Homo sapiens: one gene and its partner. The protein of the gene in region 1 interacts with the protein of each later gene in a biochemical or structural test. Each region holds a gene or a part of one and is shown in the gene's direction. Other genes may lie near its edges.

Evidence for each region. The genes of interacting proteins can lie anywhere in the genome.
Region 2: the proteins of VCP (region 1) and HTT form a complex in vitro, tested with the Homo sapiens proteins (3 studies listed by BioGRID).

Annotation. Positions count from the first base shown.
Region 1 is NC_000009.12:35,059,126-35,062,625, reverse strand, and holds part of VCP (transitional endoplasmic reticulum ATPase), read left to right. Parts: intron 1-275; coding exon 276-409; intron 410-487; coding exon 488-623; intron 624-936; coding exon 937-1,049; intron 1,050-1,446; coding exon 1,447-1,611; intron 1,612-1,702; coding exon 1,703-1,825; intron 1,826-2,100; coding exon 2,101-2,313; intron 2,314-2,824; coding exon 2,825-3,133; intron 3,134-3,406; coding exon 3,407-3,500. UniProt on the Homo sapiens protein: Necessary for the fragmentation of Golgi stacks during mitosis and for their reassembly after mitosis. Involved in the formation of the transitional endoplasmic reticulum (tER).
Region 2 is NC_000004.12:3,241,569-3,244,457, forward strand, and holds the end of HTT (huntingtin), read left to right. Parts: 3' UTR 1-2,389; downstream 2,390-2,889.

The DNA of each region.
Region 1 (3,500 bases):
CCATCTCTCTTGCTCTAGCCAGAGGTCCTAGAGCATTTGCTGTCACCTTTACAGTTCAACTGTGAGAAGAGTATAGTGAGTCCCTGGGCTTCTCTCCAGCCTTGCCTGGTGGCTGTCCTGGGATAATGGCTGGTAGAGGATGTGAGAAGTAGGCAGAGGTTACCACCTTCTCACCCAGGACCTGTCTCTGGGCCAAACAAGCAAGATAACTGATTTTTGGGAGGAATTGGGAAAGACTATCATTTTGTTATTGTCTCCATTCTGTATCCTTTCAGGTCCTGAGATCATGAGCAAATTGGCTGGTGAGTCTGAGAGCAACCTTCGTAAAGCCTTTGAGGAGGCTGAGAAGAATGCTCCTGCCATCATCTTCATTGATGAGCTAGATGCCATCGCTCCCAAAAGAGAGAAAGTAGGAGCTTACCTGAGGGGATAGAGGGGGGTTGAAAGGCCCTGACTTCACTTCTGACCAGACATCCTGTTCTGGCAGACTCATGGCGAGGTGGAGCGGCGCATTGTATCACAGTTGTTGACCCTCATGGATGGCCTAAAGCAGAGGGCACATGTGATTGTTATGGCAGCAACCAACAGACCCAACAGCATTGACCCAGCTCTACGGCGATTTGGTAAGGACTCCAGATACTTTTGACCCCGTCCTTGCTTAGGTCCTACTTCTCTCCTTCATCTAAGTCACCTAATCCTCTTGAAGCCCTTCACAGTGATTGGGTCCAGGGGTCTTTTTCCTTTACCCTACGTCCTGTCTAGAGTGACCAACCACCCTGGTTTTCCTGAGACTGAAAGGTTTCCCAGAGCTTGAGACTTTTTTAGTGCTGGCATTAGGACAATCCTGTGCTGGCTGAGATGGTTGGTCACCCTAGGCCTGTCTCTTACCTCTGGACTAGAGATGAGCCCTGTTTATGTTTGTGTACTGTCCCACAGGTCGCTTTGACAGGGAGGTAGATATTGGAATTCCTGATGCTACAGGACGCTTAGAGATTCTTCAGATCCATACCAAGAACATGAAGCTGGCAGATGATGTGGACCTGGAACAGGTGAAGTGATGATGATGGCTGACCAGGCGTTACAGTGTCTCTAGGCAGTTGCTGGGAACTGGCTAGAGACATAAGGTTAAGATGTGAGGAGATGGGTTTTGATTTCTGGACAGGGGAAAGGAAGTAATCTGAGATTGAATCCAGGAAATGGGAGTTGGCATTTTTCATAGTTGACGCTGCATTTAGAGTAAATCAGAATTGTTGGAGCAGCCTTATTTCTAGGTCCCAAGTCCAGAATTAAGTACTTAAAACCCAGCCCATAAAGGTATTGATAGTATATATTCAAGGAAATGAGAGGACCCAGGGATAGCAGTCAGGGGAAGGATTCTATTGTCTCTGAGCCTCCTGCAGCAGCTGGGTCTTTGAGGCAGCATAGTAAGTAGATCTTTCTCTGCAGGTAGCCAATGAGACTCACGGGCATGTGGGTGCTGACTTAGCAGCCCTGTGCTCAGAGGCTGCTCTGCAAGCCATCCGCAAGAAGATGGATCTCATTGACCTAGAGGATGAGACCATTGATGCCGAGGTCATGAACTCTCTAGCAGTTACTATGGATGACTTCCGGGTAAGGACCACACCCGTGCCTCAGGTACACACATACGTGCTTTGACCCCTCCCTTGATAAGTCTCATCCCCAGTTTTCCCTCCTTTTCTAGTGGGCCTTGAGCCAGAGTAACCCATCAGCACTGCGGGAAACCGTGGTAGAGGTGCCACAGGTAACCTGGGAAGACATCGGGGGCCTAGAGGATGTCAAACGTGAGCTACAGGAGCTGGTCCAGGTAGGGCAACTTGGTCCAGGGTGAGTCACTGTCTCAGTACATTGTAATTGATCTGGGTGATCTCAGGGTGTCAACACATTTGCTGCAAGAGTTGTGAGAGCACGACTTAGGAACCTACTGTTCTTAGGTTTGAGGCACTAAGGAGTCTTCTTCTAGAGAACCTGGATCTGATACCATTGGGTACACCATGAAATAATGGAGGGGATGCTTCTGTTTAGTTAGGTTTCTTTCAAAATGTGGAGGTAGCCTTGAACCCTCTTTCCTTTTCCTCCTAGTATCCTGTGGAGCACCCAGACAAATTCCTGAAGTTTGGCATGACACCTTCCAAGGGAGTTCTGTTCTATGGACCTCCTGGCTGTGGGAAAACTTTGTTGGCCAAAGCCATTGCTAATGAATGCCAGGCCAACTTCATCTCCATCAAGGGTCCTGAGCTGCTCACCATGTGGTTTGGGGAGTCTGAGGCCAATGTCAGAGAAATCTTTGACAAGGTGAGCTACAATAGGCTGAACTATGTATTGATTTGCCTGAGGGCAAGGAATAGAGGCTGTTTTTCTTTAAGAGGGTTGAAATATTCTTAGTGCTGGCTGCTCAACTGCACAGTAAGTCACTTGATTTTCTTTCTGAGGTCTGAGAGACCTAGTGTTATTTTTTTTTTCTCTCTCTCTCTCTTGAGACAGGGTCTGGCTCTGTTGCCCAGGTTGGAGGGCAGTGGTACAGTCATGGCTCACTGTAACCTTGAAACCTGGGCTTAAGCAATTCTCCTACTTCAGCCTCCTGAGTAGCTGGGACTATAGGCATGCGTCACCACATCTGGCTAATTTTTTATTTTTTGTAGAGACAAAGTCTCAGTATGTTGCCCATGCTGGTTTCGGATTTCTGGCCTCAAGTGATCCTCCCACCTTGGCCTCCCAAAGTGCTGGGAATACAGGTGTGAGCCACCACGTTTGCCTAGAGACATCTAGTTTTGTTAGTGCTTGAATCAATCCATTCCTCCTACAGGCCCGCCAAGCTGCCCCCTGTGTGCTATTCTTTGATGAGCTGGATTCGATTGCCAAGGCTCGTGGAGGTAACATTGGAGATGGTGGTGGGGCTGCTGACCGAGTCATCAACCAGATCCTGACAGAAATGGATGGCATGTCCACAAAAAAAAATGTGTTCATCATTGGCGCTACCAACCGGCCTGACATCATTGATCCTGCCATCCTCAGACCTGGCCGTCTTGATCAGCTCATCTACATCCCACTTCCTGATGAGAAGTCCCGTGTTGCCATCCTCAAGGCTAACCTGCGCAAGTCCCCAGTTGCCAAGGCAGGTGCAAGATCATGGGCTGTGGGAGACTTGCATGAGTCCTCAGGCTGGTACGGAGTGCTCTTTAGTTTCTGGACAAGATTCCACTGGGGTTAGGGTTGGTCTAAAGGGAAGGTAGAATTTTTGAGGATATCAAGATAATCTAGAATCAGGAATAAAATGGGGTGGCCAAAGAAGGGGCAAACTGTAGTTGGGAGTGCTCGGGTAGCCCAAAGATCTGCGTATCTCGAGAGGAGAGGCTAAATGCTAAGGTACCTCTGCTGCTGCTTTTAGGATGTGGACTTGGAGTTCCTGGCTAAAATGACTAATGGCTTCTCTGGAGCTGACCTGACAGAGATTTGCCAGCGTGCTTGCAAGCTGGCCATCC
Region 2 (2,889 bases), on another chromosome or scaffold:
TGGCTTGGTTTGGTCATGCCCGTCGATGTTTTGGGTATTGAATGTGGTAAGTGGAGGAAATGTTGGAACTCTGTGCAGGTGCTGCCTTGAGACCCCCAAGCTTCCACCTGTCCCTCTCCTATGTGGCAGCTGGGGAGCAGCTGAGATGTGGACTTGTATGCTGCCCACATACGTGAGGGGGAGCTGAAAGGGAGCCCCTCCTCTGAGCAGCCTCTGCCAGGCCTGTATGAGGCTTTTCCCACCAGCTCCCAACAGAGGCCTCCCCCAGCCAGGACCACCTCGTCCTCGTGGCGGGGCAGCAGGAGCGGTAGAAAGGGGTCCGATGTTTGAGGAGGCCCTTAAGGGAAGCTACTGAATTATAACACGTAAGAAAATCACCATTCCGTATTGGTTGGGGGCTCCTGTTTCTCATCCTAGCTTTTTCCTGGAAAGCCCGCTAGAAGGTTTGGGAACGAGGGGAAAGTTCTCAGAACTGTTGGCTGCTCCCCACCCGCCTCCCGCCTCCCCCGCAGGTTATGTCAGCAGCTCTGAGACAGCAGTATCACAGGCCAGATGTTGTTCCTGGCTAGATGTTTACATTTGTAAGAAATAACACTGTGAATGTAAAACAGAGCCATTCCCTTGGAATGCATATCGCTGGGCTCAACATAGAGTTTGTCTTCCTCTTGTTTACGACGTGATCTAAACCAGTCCTTAGCAAGGGGCTCAGAACACCCCGCTCTGGCAGTAGGTGTCCCCCACCCCCAAAGACCTGCCTGTGTGCTCCGGAGATGAATATGAGCTCATTAGTAAAAATGACTTCACCCACGCATATACATAAAGTATCCATGCATGTGCATATAGACACATCTATAATTTTACACACACACCTCTCAAGACGGAGATGCATGGCCTCTAAGAGTGCCCGTGTCGGTTCTTCCTGGAAGTTGACTTTCCTTAGACCCGCCAGGTCAAGTTAGCCGCGTGACGGACATCCAGGCGTGGGACGTGGTCAGGGCAGGGCTCATTCATTGCCCACTAGGATCCCACTGGCGAAGATGGTCTCCATATCAGCTCTCTGCAGAAGGGAGGAAGACTTTATCATGTTCCTAAAAATCTGTGGCAAGCACCCATCGTATTATCCAAATTTTGTTGCAAATGTGATTAATTTGGTTGTCAAGTTTTGGGGGTGGGCTGTGGGGAGATTGCTTTTGTTTTCCTGCTGGTAATATCGGGAAAGATTTTAATGAAACCAGGGTAGAATTGTTTGGCAATGCACTGAAGCGTGTTTCTTTCCCAAAATGTGCCTCCCTTCCGCTGCGGGCCCAGCTGAGTCTATGTAGGTGATGTTTCCAGCTGCCAAGTGCTCTTTGTTACTGTCCACCCTCATTTCTGCCAGCGCATGTGTCCTTTCAAGGGGAAAATGTGAAGCTGAACCCCCTCCAGACACCCAGAATGTAGCATCTGAGAAGGCCCTGTGCCCTAAAGGACACCCCTCGCCCCCATCTTCATGGAGGGGGTCATTTCAGAGCCCTCGGAGCCAATGAACAGCTCCTCCTCTTGGAGCTGAGATGAGCCCCACGTGGAGCTCGGGACGGATAGTAGACAGCAATAACTCGGTGTGTGGCCGCCTGGCAGGTGGAACTTCCTCCCGTTGCGGGGTGGAGTGAGGTTAGTTCTGTGTGTCTGGTGGGTGGAGTCAGGCTTCTCTTGCTACCTGTGAGCATCCTTCCCAGCAGACATCCTCATCGGGCTTTGTCCCTCCCCCGCTTCCTCCCTCTGCGGGGAGGACCCGGGACCACAGCTGCTGGCCAGGGTAGACTTGGAGCTGTCCTCCAGAGGGGTCACGTGTAGGAGTGAGAAGAAGGAAGATCTTGAGAGCTGCTGAGGGACCTTGGAGAGCTCAGGATGGCTCAGACGAGGACACTCGCTTGCCGGGCCTGGGCCTCCTGGGAAGGAGGGAGCTGCTCAGAATGCCGCATGACAACTGAAGGCAACCTGGAAGGTTCAGGGGCCGCTCTTCCCCCATGTGCCTGTCACGCTCTGGTGCAGTCAAAGGAACGCCTTCCCCTCAGTTGTTTCTAAGAGCAGAGTCTCCCGCTGCAATCTGGGTGGTAACTGCCAGCCTTGGAGGATCGTGGCCAACGTGGACCTGCCTACGGAGGGTGGGCTCTGACCCAAGTGGGGCCTCCTTGTCCAGGTCTCACTGCTTTGCACCGTGGTCAGAGGGACTGTCAGCTGAGCTTGAGCTCCCCTGGAGCCAGCAGGGCTGTGATGGGCGAGTCCCGGAGCCCCACCCAGACCTGAATGCTTCTGAGAGCAAAGGGAAGGACTGACGAGAGATGTATATTTAATTTTTTAACTGCTGCAAACATTGTACATCCAAATTAAAGGAAAAAAATGGAAACCATCAGTTGTTGCTGTGTGAGGCTTGCTTTGCTTCATGAGAACCTAGACCTTGCTGAGCTGGAGTCTTAGGAAGCAGTCTCCTAAGTGCTTCTCCAGCAGGGGCAGAAACTGTCCCACCAGCTAACATCTGGCATTATGGAGGGTCCCCCAGGCAGCTGCCAGCAGGGACAGGCCCCGTGTTTTCTGTAGCCAGGGATGAGGAAGTGGCCCCAGGGCATGGGCCTGGCTGGGTGCTTCTGCAAGGGCCTTCCCAAACCACAGTACAGGTGGTCTTCCTGCCCTGCAGATGGGAGCTGTGGGAGCTGCTGGAGCTGCTGGAGCCTTCATGGTCAAGTGACATCATAAGCTTATATGACATACACAAGCCTCAGGACTTGGCCCATGGCACTGAAGCAGGTCATCAGGCCCAGCACAGAGACTAGAGCTGTGTTCTCACAGGGCCCACCACCCTTCCACCTCCTTGGCCATTGACACCTGCGTCCCTGGCCCAGCTGCTCCCAG